2 linked regions of the Homo sapiens genome follow. The protein of the gene in region 1 interacts with the protein of each later gene in a pairwise test. Each region holds a gene or a part of one and is shown in the gene's direction. Other genes may lie near its edges.

The links. The genes of interacting proteins can lie anywhere in the genome.
Region 2: the proteins of RORB (region 1) and MAP6 interact in a two-hybrid assay, tested with the Homo sapiens proteins (one study listed by BioGRID).

What each region holds. Positions count from the first base shown.
Region 1 is NC_000009.12:74,640,304-74,647,461, forward strand, and holds part of RORB (nuclear receptor ROR-beta), read left to right. Parts: intron 1-2,110; coding exon 2,111-2,512; intron 2,513-7,158. UniProt on the Homo sapiens protein: Nuclear receptor that binds DNA as a monomer to ROR response elements (RORE) containing a single core motif half-site 5'-AGGTCA-3' preceded by a short A-T-rich sequence.
Region 2 is NC_000011.10:75,665,941-75,673,001, reverse strand, and holds the start of MAP6 (microtubule-associated protein 6), read left to right. Parts: upstream 1-3,963; 5' UTR 3,964-4,632; coding exon 4,633-5,537; intron 5,538-7,061. UniProt on the Homo sapiens protein: Involved in microtubule stabilization in many cell types, including neuronal cells. Specifically has microtubule cold stabilizing activity.

The sequences.
Region 1 (7,158 bases):
AGTCTCGGCTCACTGCAGTTTCTGCCTCCTGGGTTCAAGGGATTCTCCTGCCTCAGCCTCCCGAGTAGCTGGGAAGACAAAGCACACACCACCACGCCCACAAGCACATACCACCATACTCGGCTAATTCTGTGTGTGTGTGTGTGTGTGTGTGTATTTTTAGTAGAGACAGGGTTTCACCACGTTAGCCAGGATGGTCTCGATCTCCTGACCTCGTGATCTGCCCGCCTTGGCCTCCCAAAGTGCTGGGATTACAGGTGCAAGCCACCGCACCCAGCCCTAGAATGTAGGTTTTTAAGAAGGATTAAGAAGATACAGAAAGAGTTTGGCTTCTTCAAACCCAGCCCTCACATCCACAATCCAGCAGGCAAGAAGGAGGAAAACATGCCCCAATACCCCCAAGTGAATGCGACACTTGCATTTACTTCCCCTTAATCAGAACTTAATCACCTGCACATACCTGCCAGTGAGGGGGCTTAGGAATTACGGTCTCCATTCTGATCAGCCTATGCTCAGATAAATATGGTAGCTCTGTACCCAATGGGAAAAGAAAATGAATTTTGGAAGAATATTGGAGGAGGAGGGTGAATGGCAGCTCTTTCAGACTGTGGGAATCTCTTCTGTGTTCCCTTTGTGCTAGAGAGTTCTTAAGCACTTCACCATTTAGATATTCTCAGAAGAGCATCAACCCTCATGATTGAATCCAGGAACTGAGCCTTTTTCTAAACTCCATTTCCTTCTTTCTCCATTCTCTGAGCTCCTAACACCAAGAGGTGGTGGGAATACCGTCACAAAAGAACAGCAAACAGAAACTCAGGGAGGAGCCTCCAAGTTTGTGGTAGCCCCCACTATTAACATGAGCTGAACAATGCTTGATAATTCAAACAAGGTAGGCCTGTGACTCAGGATGTTCACATCCTAAAAAGGCAGTTGACAACCTGTGAGGAGAAATGTCAATATTCACAACAGTTCAGGAGGTTAAATATCTTAAGAAACAACACACTGAAATGAAAGCACCTTGATATTACCCTGTGACTACTTGCAGCACTTCTTCCTTCTTTTTCCTCAGACTGCTGAGAATATTGCCAGAAGAGATAGGAAAAATAAAACTTGGGAGTGGTAGAATGAGAAAAGATAGTTACTGTTTTGGTCACTTGCTAGGCATTGGATGCCCCAAATTGCTATTTTCCAAAGAATCTTATCATTTGATCCCAAAAGCCAACTGAAGGCAAATGATGCCATCACTTAAAATTATGTTTATCACCCAGCCCCATGCCTTCGGTCTTACCCAACACACTATTTAGAAAATCGGCCTGGCCGGGTGCAGTGGCTCACATCTGTAATCCCAGCACTTTGAGAGGCCGAGACAGGAGGCTCACTTGAGGCCAGGAGTTCAAGACCAGCCTGGGCAATATAGCAAGGCCCCGGCTCTACAAAAATTAAAAAAAAAAAAAATAGCTGGACCTGGCGGCATGCACCTGCAGTCCTAGCTACTCAGGAGGCCAAGGTGGGAGGATTGCTTGAGCCCAGGAGCCCAAGGTTTCAGTGAGCTATGATCATGCCACTGCACTCCAGCCTGGGTGACAGAGCAAGACCCTGTCTCTTAAAGAAAATTATTATAAAAAATAAAAAGAAATTTGAGAAAGAAAACAGAAAATAGATTTGAAAGTGAAATACTAGGGTCCAATCTGGCAATCTAGTAATCCTAAAGATTAAGAGAAAAGTTAGTTATGAGTGTTGGTTAACATTTTAATAGCGGGTACTATTGCTAATTTGGTATTTTGGTTTTTTGCATTTTTTTCCACAGGTAAGAAAAAAAGAGGAAAACATGCTTTCTAACTTCATGGCAATGAGAAATACATACATAAGTTTTTATATTTCTTCCTGGCTTAGATTTATTTCTCACTGTGGGCATAAACCAGGACAGGTACCCTCTGAATATAACCTTTCCCCAGATGTGGAGTGCAAATGAATGGGTTCTTAAGTTATGGTGCTAGACATTTGTGCATTTGAAGTTGAAGGGACAACCATCCCATGACCCGTTGTACCTGAGGTGGTTAACGCGAATGATAACCACAAGTGCTGTTTTCTGCTTTTCTCTCCAACCCAGCTGTGAAGTTTGGGAGGATGTCCAAGAAGCAAAGGGACAGCCTGTATGCTGAGGTGCAGAAGCACCAGCAGCGGCTGCAGGAACAGCGGCAGCAGCAGAGTGGGGAGGCAGAAGCCCTTGCCAGGGTGTACAGCAGCAGCATTAGCAACGGCCTGAGCAACCTGAACAACGAGACCAGCGGCACTTATGCCAACGGGCACGTCATTGACCTGCCCAAGTCTGAGGGTTATTACAACGTCGATTCCGGTCAGCCGTCCCCTGATCAGTCAGGACTTGACATGACTGGAATCAAACAGATAAAGCAAGAACCTATCTATGACCTCACATCCGTACCCAACTTGTTTACCTATAGCTCTTTCAACAATGGGCAGTTAGCACCAGGGATAACCATGACTGAAATCGGTAAGTGGAAGTCTCCTCCCAGTGGCTTTTTTTGAGATTTTGCTTTGAATTTACCTTGGTCCTATTTAGTATGGTAATTTTCTTAAGACTTAAATTGAATTACTTGGATTCACAGCTTCTACTGAGAAAACAAATTGATTTTTAAATATATTCTAATAAATGTCATTTTTCCCCACCCCATAAAAGTTTATTTCAAGCAAAGGAAGAAAGAAGAAATTATAAATAGAAAGATGCTATCTGTAAAGAACAGATGCTATCTGTTGAATTTGGGTTCTCACTGAAGGAAAAATGTTATTGGTATAAACAGGGAAATTTCGGCATGTATTCAAAGTTGATGCTATTCAAAGTGAAATTGCTGAAGGATATAGAAACAGTGTGGAATAACCAAACGAACAGGGGCCCAACTCTTCCTCTAAGATAAATGGGGACAAACTTTAAGCAAACAGTATCTCAGCTTCCTTCTTGGTGAAGTCAGGGCGATAGACCAGAAGACCGCCAAGGCTCTTGGAAATCTGAATTCAAGAATTCCATATAGGATTCTGAATTACAGCAATGAAAAGAGTGTAGTCTGGAATCTTATAGAACATGAGAGCAACAAATAAGCTAGTCATAGGCATGATTGCATCAGAAAGCTGATCCTCTTTCCTTCGATTCCTAAGGAGCGATCTTCAAGAGTGCCCTGCCTTAGGCAAGCTCTCTTCTGACCCACTGCAACTTTGTTTTACTCCATCGAACTCAGGAGTCTATTAAATGTTTAACCAGTTAATCTCATCAACTAACTGCCATAAAAATATTGAAGTAGGTTTAACACATTACTCTCCTGGGTAACAGGGTTGCATGTTAACAGTAGGCTAGAAGAGCTAAGCAAACAGTGGCGATGTGATCCCAGGCTTCACTGCAATATTTAGTGTACTGGAGAAAGCAGGCTAGAGCTCAGGAACCTTCAAGGGCTCTTTACATTTCTTCAAGGGCTCTGCCCAAAGAGGTGGCAGAGCAGAGCAATTAAGAACTGTGCTACCTGAGTTTAAATCCTGGCTCTTTGGCTTACTATTTAAGCTGGAGCAAGTTTCTCAATCCCAGTTCCTTCATCTTTACAAGGGGGAAAGCATTAGCTTGTAGCTCACAGGGACATTGTAAAGCTTAAATGAGTTAATACGTGTAAACCATAGCAAGGTTTGGCACTCAGGAAGTGCTCAATAACTCTTAGCTATTACTGTTTTATGCTACATGCTCGGTCACCTTCTCTGTCTAACCTGCAAATAGGAGCCTAAAGCCTACAAGTGTTTTAAATTAAGCTGCTGTGAACACATAATGAAATACATGGCCATATTCTTGGCTACTTGTACCATCTGGTTGAGGAAGAAGCAATGTTACACAGTTATAAACCTGAAGCGTTATTTCTCCCTTTTAGCAATGCAGCATGTGACAGTGAGTAACATTGTTGACAAAGCACCTGTAATGACTTTCACAGCTGAGAGACACACAAAAAAAGAAACATCAACTAAAATAACAAAAATAGTTAATTATTACTGTCATCCTTAACTGTTTTTACTATATCATGGGCCCTTCACACGTTTACTTTTCACGAACATCTTAAAAGATAAATTAAAATAGTATTTCTGTTATACAGATGCTGAAACCGAAGCTTAGAGATGTCTCATAACTTCCCAGAGTCCTATAATTACTAAATGACAGAGCCAGGGTTCACCTCAGACAGTCTGATTCCAGAGTCCCTCCACTCCTCTGTTAACCTGCTACCTGCCATGGGTCTCAATTCATAGACTGCATTGTCAACTAATAGGGACGGTCATTTAAAATAGTCATTCAAACTTTTCAAGAGGGAAAAGGCACCTTCCTTTGCATTTATACTACTTAATATCTAAGTTCCTGAGTCTACTATTAATTTGAGAGATATGTTTGAATCCTTATAAAACAAAAACTCACAACAGTGGAGCAATCTTCTGGCCTATATTCAAAAGGGGAGTCTTCTAAGAATTAATAAATCATAACTTGTTTATGATTTAGCAACCACATTAAATATTATGGAAAGAGAACTACAGCCAAACCATCAGGTCTGCGTTACCCTGAACAAGTCATTTTTCCTCTCTGACCCTGAGTCTATTCTGTGAACTGACAGAACTGGACTAGAGAATCTCAAAATTTATCCAGACACTCTGCACAGACATTGACATGCAAAATAAACTCGCGTATATTTTACTCAATTATTTCAAGATACCTCTAGTCTTTAGATATCTTTAAATATGTTTCAAATTTTGGAGGATTTTTTTCATCAGACATTTAGGGATGCAAATGGGCTGTCCTGCCAGTGCTCTCAAATTTAGGAGACCCCTAAGCCTAAATAGTGGTTTGGTTCACATTTCATTAAAACAGCAATGCCACCTAGTGGACACAAACCCATTCTATGACTGTTGAATCTAGGTACCAATGAAGAGCCACAATAGTATAATATACTGTCTTTCCTGCACCGTCCAAAACATTGACACTCATTTCACTAAAATATTAAATCCTTGACAGTATCACTGGGCAGGAAGGCATCTGTGGTATAGTGTGGTGACTAAGAACTCTGCTTCTGGAGTCAAAGTGCCTGCATTTAAAACCCAATTGTGCCTTTTCCCTTAAACAATTTACTTAACTTCTCTGAGTCTCAGTTGTTAACCCAGGCCAATAATAGTCTTTATCTGTGTGTGTGGATTAAGTGAGTTAATATTTATGAGTTCTTAGTACAGTACCTATCATATGTAAGCACCATTATTATTAATAATATAACTGTTATTTTAATTGACTATTAGTATCACTGGTTATTGCAGATAATATAATTACCTTTTATCGAGCACCTACACTGTGATGAGCAAGTCCTATTTAAATTCTCATAACAATCCCATTATGCCTGTTATGTATTTGTATATTTTACTGATGGAAAAATCGAGGCTTAGAAGTTATATAACTTGTAAAAAGCAAAGAACACTTATAAGCCCATATCTGAGTAACATCAAAACCCATTCTTTTAACCGTTATACTGTATTTCCTCCCACCAATGGCAGCTCCTCACAAGTTGATTGCCATTCTCACCACAACACAGGTTTGGTGTTTGCTGCCTACCTGACCTCCTTCTAGGCACTACAAACTGGAGCTTTCAGAGTATGCACGCTGTCATTTTGACTTGATTTGATTAATGGGCATCTAAACCAATCTGGTTGGTGGCAAGCTGCCATAGAAAAAAACCCTATGCATATAAAACAGAAAATCAGATTTTGCCACATCCTGACTGGGTGAATTTGAGATTATGTCACACCAAAAAAAAAAAAAATTTAACATCACCCTTGGCTACCAGAAGTCCTGATCTGCTTCCTCTGGATTCTAAGAGAATAATGAAATGTATGCAACTAGGTCATTATGCTTCTGATATTGGGTCATCTTAAAAGCAGATCGCTTTTAAAAACCAGTTTTTAGACCAGTCCATATAGACTAAGATCTCATGAGTTTGAAATTTTTGATAAAAACACACATGTAAGAACCATAACACAACTATATGAGCAACTGCATGCAGATCCCAAAAAGTCAGTTTTTGAATATTAGCAGAGTCAGGAATACTCTCCCAAAAAAACAAACTTGTCTTGCTGAAAGTTCACCAACGAAACTACAAAATTCCTAGGTTAAGGGCTCTAATGATAATGTTTGATATATGGAGAAAAATGTAGAAAATCATTTCATGCATTTTAGTCATTTTGAGCCTCACACCAGTTCCTTCAGGTGAGCAGTGAAGAAACCATTTCATTGTACAGATAAAGAAATTGAGAGTCTGAGACAGTGAGTGATATTCCTAGGACAGAGAGTTAAGTGATAAAGCTTAAATTCTAAGGTTAAGGTTAAGTCACTGTCCTAGACTGCCAGGCATTTTTCTTCAAATACCTATTTTTGAAATGTGCCATACACTTGAGAAGAGCAGAACGAGGTTTCTGCCCTCACCATCTAGGAGATACCACGAAAATAAATAGTCACGACAATTCACCACATCCTAAGTATACGTTCTGGGCGGGATGCTACCACACTCTTCTGGAGGTGAGGGAGACGGCAAGTATTGATCAACCTGAGCCACATCTCTTATCAGGAATGTTTTATTCCCCTAGTTTTGAGAATAGAAATAAAATGTGGGTAAGCAAACAGAAAACCATGAAACATTTCAGGAGTTACATCCTTGGGTTTTTCTAAAACCATAGGAAAAAGAAGCCATGAAATGAAAGAATGGCAACAAGTAAGCCGAAAATTAATATTTAGACAGCAGTATTAACTGGGTTTAGCTGGAATTTTACTTCAAACTGGCGTGATGGATGTGTTACATCTTTAGGGATAACATTTTGCAGTGGTTGGTGGCAGGGAGAGGAAGCTAGCTAGCTAAAAGATGTTCCGCAAACATGCAGAAAAGGAAAGTAGAACATCTTGTCTTTGCTCCACCACTAACAAGCTGAGATGAGTTGGGGAATTCTGCAGGACTAATACTCTTAATGAAAGCTCATTTAAGCTGGAAGTGATTGGCAATGTATCTACAACGTCTCAGACAACAAGACAATTGAAACAGCCAAACAACATGCTTTTTTATATTTAAAAAAATCCATCAAATTAGCTAC
Region 2 (7,061 bases), on another chromosome or scaffold:
TCCCTTTTCTTTCTTTCTTTAAATGTGAATTTTTAGGTTCATAAACTTTTTAGGTTAATACGTGATATGGCTTGGCTCTGTGTCCCCACCCAAATCTCATGTGGAATTGTAATTCTCAGTGTTGGGGGAGGGACCTGGTGGAAGGTGATTGGATCATGGGGGTGGATTTCCCATTGCTGTTCTTATGATAGTGAGTGAGTTCTCATGAGAGCTGGTTGTTTAAAAGTGTGTAGCACTTACCCCTTCTCTCTCTTCCTCCTACTTTGGCCATGTGAGGAAGGTGCCTTGCTTCCCCTTTGCCTTCTGCCATGATTGTAAGTTTCCTGAGGCCTCCCCAGCTATGCATAACTGTGAGTCAATTAAACCTCTTTTTTTCATAAATTACCCAGTCTCAGGTAGTTCTTTATAGCAGTCCAAGAACAGACTAATACAATAAGTTAAGATTTCTACTCTCCTCACAAACAAATAGGGACTTTAGAATATTTTAACTCTGATTATTCCTTCATATCTTAACATCATAGTATTTCCCAGTATTTTGGTACTCTACTGTTTTTATATACCTCAAATTTGTTCAGGCATGGCCAGATCCACATGCTCAAATGACTAAAATACTAAGAGAACTCCAAACAGTGGTTCAAACAAGAGGGAACTATATTTCTTTCTCACATGCAGTCTAGCAGTAAGCAGGTAGCCCAAGGCTGCTAGGCTGCTCTGCTCCATGGGATCATCCAAGACAGGTTTCTGCTGTGTTGTTCCTCTCCCCTTCCTTCCCCAAGGTTGAATCTTGGCACTAGAATGTTCTTAACCACAACACCAAAACCTTCAGAGCTGTCTTAACTACCCAAATGATAACTCACCTCTACCATGTCCACATCCTACCCAATGGGGAGAAAGACAAAGTTGAACACAAGCAACTTCTTTTAAGGAAGTGACATGGAAGTGCAGATGGTTGTTCTTTGCTGCAAGGATGGTTGGGAAATGTGGTTTCTGGTTGGGTGGCCCAGTGCCCAAATAAAACTTGGGGGCTTTTGTTACTATAGGGAAGAAGAGAAGAATGGGCTCTGGGGTGTAGATATCATCAGAATCCTGTGCCCCCTTCTGATTTTCTCTGTGTTTGCTTCAACCTTAGGAAGCCTCCCCACCAGTAATGGCAAAGATGACCACTAACAGTAGCTTCATAGTCTTCCATTTTAGCAATTCTAGAAAAAAAAAAAAAAGGAGAGTGGGTCTTTAGGATAGTTTCAGCTAAAGTCTGGGGTTTCTTTAACTGGTCTAATGTGGATCACACCCCCATCACTAAACTAGTCACTTTGACCAGGAAGATGCATCCCCCTGGCAAACAGGTGTGAGTCATATGGGCACCCCTGGAAGGTAGGTGGGTTAGGATTACCTCCACCTGAACCACATGGCCTGAAAATAGAAGAGTGGCCCTCAAAATTCAAATGATGAGGTGCTGTGACCACCCGAATGATTGCTAAATAAGCCATATAAGAGATGACCACTAGACTTGTCTGTCCCACAGGGTCATTGGATGGTCCAGGGAGGTTGAATGCATTTTTCAAATCCAAGTAAATAAATGTGGAAGGTGATGTTAACGATAAAATTTTCCTTACACTTCTCATGCTGGGAGAACTCCTTCTCATCTCTTACTAGTCATTCATTCAGCACCAGTGTTAACCTCTGTTATGTTGACCATACTCTTTGATAATTATTTACTTATGTGTCTGTCTCTCAGTTCTCCAATAACACATTCTTTCAAGTGAGGGCTCCTCCAGAGCTATAATCCATATGTGTCCTATAGTCCTCAAGGCACAAAGTAGGCATCAGGAGACTAGACTTGTTAAATGAAAGAAGGATAAACTATCAGTGATTCTCAGAATAGACATCCTCCCTCCAATTTTTAGCCTTTTTTAAACCTTTGGAAATCATTATTGGAAATGCATCAGCCAAATCCCAGGGAGTTCTGCAGGGGTGAGAAGAGGAAATGTACGACCAGATTATGTTCTTTATAAAAATATATCTCCTAACGACTGGAAAACAGCACCAGACATTATTTTATTTATGGAACTCAAATCAAATCACCAAGAGGCAAAGTCCTAAGTAGGAGGAAGTTCAGTAGATAATTGACTAATCAGAGCTGTCTTCTCATCCAATTTGATTCTAGGATTAAAGAAAATCTGTGTTGTGCAACCCATTTATAATCTAAACACATACATGACTTTCTCTCCCTGAAACACCAATGCTCCCAGCTTAACTGATACTGAAAACTCTGCCTATATTGGAGGGGAAAAGAGCTGAAGTCCAGTGGATGTAGCTAGTGGAGGAGTGCAGGAGACATAAATGGAGAGATAGCAAAGACAGAACAAAAGTTACTTGGAGGAACAAGAGGTCTCCTGGAGAAGGTGTCCAAGTGGCTTCTTAGGACACTCCACTTATGGGTCTTCTGGGTGGGCCTTTTGGATACTAATAGCTACCATTTATTGAGCCATTGCCATATGCCAGATGTTGTGGTAAGCATTTTTAGTGCATTATCTCATTTTAATTCTCAGAACAACCTTGCAAGTTCAGTATTGGTACCCCCATTCATAGATGAAACTGAAGGTCAGAAGATTGCAGTGATTTGCCCACTGCCATACAGTTAAGAGCTACAAAAGCCAGGATTTGAATCTCTGCAGATTAGATTTGACTCAAAGCTTCTGCCCTGGGTCCTTCGCTATCCTCACAAAACCACTTTTTTTTTCTTTTTGAGATGGAGTTTTGCTCTTGTCACCCAGGCTGGAGTGCAATGGCACTATCTCGGCTCACTGCAACCTCCACCTCCTAGGTTCAAGCGATTCTCCTGCCTCAGCCTCCTGAGTAGCTGGGATTACAGGCACGCACCATCATGCCCAGCTAATTTTTGTATTTTTAGTAGAGACAGGGTTTCACCATGTTGGCCAGGGTGGTCTTGAACTCCCAACCTCAGGTGATCCACCGGCCTCAGCTTACCAAAGTGCTGGGATTACAAGTGTGAGCCACGACGCCCGGCCCACAAAACCATTTTTGAGGCAGGTAGTATTTCCTCCATTCTACAGATGAGGAGACTGAAACACAGGGATGACTCAACTTGCCCAAGTGGCACAGAGAGTAGCAGAGCCAAACCAGGTCTTTCGGACTTCAAAATCTCTTCTGCTTTGAAGATAGAAGAAGAGCAACGGCGAGGAGTGAGAACGTGCCAGAAGGCCCCTGCAGGCCAGGCACTGCCGTTTCCTAGGGCACAGGTCCTACCTACTCCCAACCTCCACAATTAAGCCACTTTCCAGAATTTTCTTTTCTCTACCTCTGCCCCAGTGTGGCACCTGAACTGAACAGGGACTGGGCGGTTCTTGGGGGAGTCTAAAACATACCTTCGCAAAGATTCCCTAGGAAAGGAACATCCAGGGCACCACCAGCCCTGGTGCTCCCATTCCGACACATCTGAGCAAGGCCTGTGCGTAAGACTGGCAAGTGCTTGAACCAGGAGGCAACCAAACTGGGCTCAAACACAGCCCGCCGGTTTTGACCAATTCCAGCAGCTCCCCTTTTCAAAGCATCTATTCTGGGACAGACATTTCACTAGGAGTTTCCTCCATGTTTTAAAATTTAATAGCACCCCCCCCCCCCATTGGCCCTATTTTACAAAAGAGGAGCCTCCGACTCCTGGGGATGAAGCGACAAGCACAAGGACAGAAAGTCCTCACGAGCTTGGGACTTGAACCCACTACGTCCCCAGATTCTGCTGTTGCCCGGGAGTAGAGGAGGGAGGAGCTGCCAGGGCGGAGGGTGGTGGGGAGGGAAGGCAAGCTCCCAGCAGCGCAAGCTGACGACAGCAGGTGTTTTTGTTTTGTTTTGTTTTTTTCTGCAGCACTCTTTCAGTCAGCATCGTTCCTGGATTTTTTTCTCACTGCTGAGCAGCATAAAAGGGTGGGGCCGCTTCCCTGCAGCAGAGGCAGAGGCGGCGGCGGCAGCGGCTGCAGCATCATTCGCGGGCAGCGGCGGAGACCGAGAGCTGCAGAAAAGGGTGGGGTCGCTTCCCAGGAGAAGAGGCGGTGGCGGCGGCGGCTGCGGCATCCTCGCGGGCAGCGGCGGAGGCAGCAATGCTCGGTCTCCGCTGGAGGTGATGGCCTCCCAGCCCTGCTAGGTGGCCGGCTGCACTAGGACGCCGGCAGGAAGGAGACTCGAGCCCGGTCCGCGGACCCTGCGGCCACACCGCCCGGCCCCTCCTCTGCGCCATGGCTTAAGCCTGTAGCCACCTCTCCTCACGTCGCCTCGCTCGACCGAGGTCTGTGCGCCGCCGCAGCCGCAGGGAGGGGCGCGTCCCAGACACCCTCGCCGGGGACTCGGGAACGCCGTGCGTCTCACCCTTCGGCGCTCGCAGCAGACTGCGCTCCCAAAGGCGTTTGCGACCGGTAATCGAGGGACTCTACAGACTCTCCTAGGACAGCTCTCCCCGGGTGCTCGCTGAGGGAGGAGGGCGAACTAGCTCCGGCTGATCGGGGGTAGAAAACGGTGGGAACCACATTGGCCGGTCAGGATCGGAGGCTGAAGGAAGATTATAGAGACTTGCTTTAGAACCACAAGAAGAAAGAGGAGGCCGGCTTTTCAGCTAGCATCATGGCGTGGCCGTGCATCACGAGGGCCTGCTGCATCGCCCGCTTCTGGAACCAGTTGGACAAAGCGGACATCGCTGTGCCGCTGGTTTTCACCAAGTACTCGGAGGCCACCGAGCACCCGGGCGCCCCGCCGCAGCCACCGCCGCCGCAGCAGCAGGCGCAGCCGGCGCTCGCGCCCCCCTCGGCGCGCGCGGTTGCCATAGAGACGCAGCCAGCCCAGGGCGAGTTGGATGCAGTTGCCCGGGCAACGGGGCCAGCGCCTGGGCCTACCGGCGAGCGCGAGCCGGCGGCGGGCCCCGGCCGGAGCGGGCCGGGCCCGGGCCTGGGCTCCGGCTCCACCTCCGGCCCCGCGGACTCGGTGATGCGGCAGGATTACCGAGCCTGGAAGGTGCAGCGGCCCGAGCCCAGCTGCCGGCCGCGCAGCGAATACCAGCCCTCCGACGCTCCCTTCGAGCGCGAGACCCAGTACCAGAAGGACTTCCGCGCCTGGCCGCTGCCGCGCCGCGGGGACCACCCGTGGATCCCCAAGCCCGTGCAGATCTCTGCGGCCTCCCAGGCGTCGGCGCCCATTCTCGGGGCGCCCAAGCGCCGGCCGCAGAGCCAGGAGCGCTGGCCAGTGCAGGCCGCCGCTGAGGCCCGGGAGCAGGAGGCGGCCCCCGGCGGAGCGGGTGGCCTGGCGGCCGGAAAGGCGTCCGGGGCGGACGAGCGCGACACGCGCAGGAAGGCCGGGCCTGCCTGGATTGTGCGCCGCGCCGAGGGCCTGGGGCACGAGCAGACGCCGCTGCCCGCGGCCCAGGCCCAGGTCCAGGCCACCGGCCCCGAGGCTGGCAGGGGGCGCGCCGCGGCGGACGCCCTCAACCGGCAAATCCGCGAGGAGGTGGCGAGTGCAGTGAGCAGCTCCTACAGGTGAGACGCGGCCGCTGCTAGCGCGGGGGAGTCACCACGCAGACCCTCCCCGCGGGCTGCCCGGGGCCCAGGATCCCCAGCGCAGGCCTAGCGTGCAGCCTCCCTCCAGTCCCAGGCCACACCCTCTCCCCAGCCGCCTCCCAGGCCACCTCCTGTCGAAGCCTTCTCTTCTGCCCTGTCCCATGCGCAAGCTGTTAGTATATTCCATCTCAGCCTGCCTGGCTCTTTCACTTTACCGCTGTAGCCCTTTTCTCCATCCCTCCCACCTCAGATCCCTGCCTTCCCACAGAGACCCTTTGCAATGTCAGCAGAGGCTGTGCTTCCGTCGTGCCCCCATCCAACTCACCTGCTGCGTTAGCCTGGATGTTGCCCTTTGCAGGGTCCCCATTCTTCCAGAAGAAGAATTCTTTCCAAGTGGCCTCTCGCCCTCCTCCCTAGCCCAGTTCCCTTGGCCCTTCATTCTTTCCTCCCTTTCTCAGTCTCTGGGCAACACCCAAGCACCATACCTTTTTCTAGATTACCCACAGGATCTTTACAAATTACCCCCCACCTTCCACCGCTGGAACTTTGAAGTCATTGTCCTTCCACCTCTCCCTAGCTGTGACATATTGGGCAAGTTTCCTAACCTTTCTGGGCCTCATGTTCTTATCTGTAAGATGTAATTGGTAATAGACATCTCTTAGGATTGTTCACACTTTTATTGATTTAATATTAAACATTTTATTTTTATTTAGTTAATATTAAATATTCAACATATTTTTGAGTGCCTACTATATGCCAGGCAGTGTGCCGGACATTGTGAGGATTAAATGAGATAATCAGGAGAACAGCTCGTGCCTAGCACATAGTGGTAATTAGTACATCTTGGTTCCATTCCTACCTTCCACATGATACCTTATGATCCTACTTCCTAGGTGCCTCCAGCCTTCTCTGCTATTGAGGCATCTTCTTTCTCTCTCCTTTCCCTACATGTTCTCCAGATGTCTCTCATTCTCTTGCCACCAAAAACCCCTTTCTCCAGCACACTCAATTCCTTGCAAATGAATGCTTTCAAGCATGAAAATCTCTCTCTCTCTTTCCTTCTAGAATTTTCCCTCTGCTGCAGCTTCAGCCATTCCAGTCTGCTTTCTTGCCCTTCATCCATCCGGTATATATTTCTGAAGGCTTAGCTTTCAATTCTCCCCTTATGTTTCAACCAACATCAATTAGCTAACAGAACACAGTTGACTCTGGACATGCAACATTGCATTTGGGGTCTCTCGGGGAAGATCTGTATGAAAGTAATTGAGCTAGAGGTGTTCAAAATGCAGCTTATGGGGTCCTTTATCAATGCCACAGCTTTCTGCTGCCTCCTTCCTGCAAGAGGGTGTGGGGGGCGGGGAGGACTAGAGAGTTAGTCCTTTGCCAAGACTCTGTATATAGGTTAGACTAATATCCTTCTCCAGTGAACATTACCAATACTCTCTCATAGGCTGAGGAAAGAATAGCATATCCAGACATCCTTCATGTTAAGAGAAAATCTGT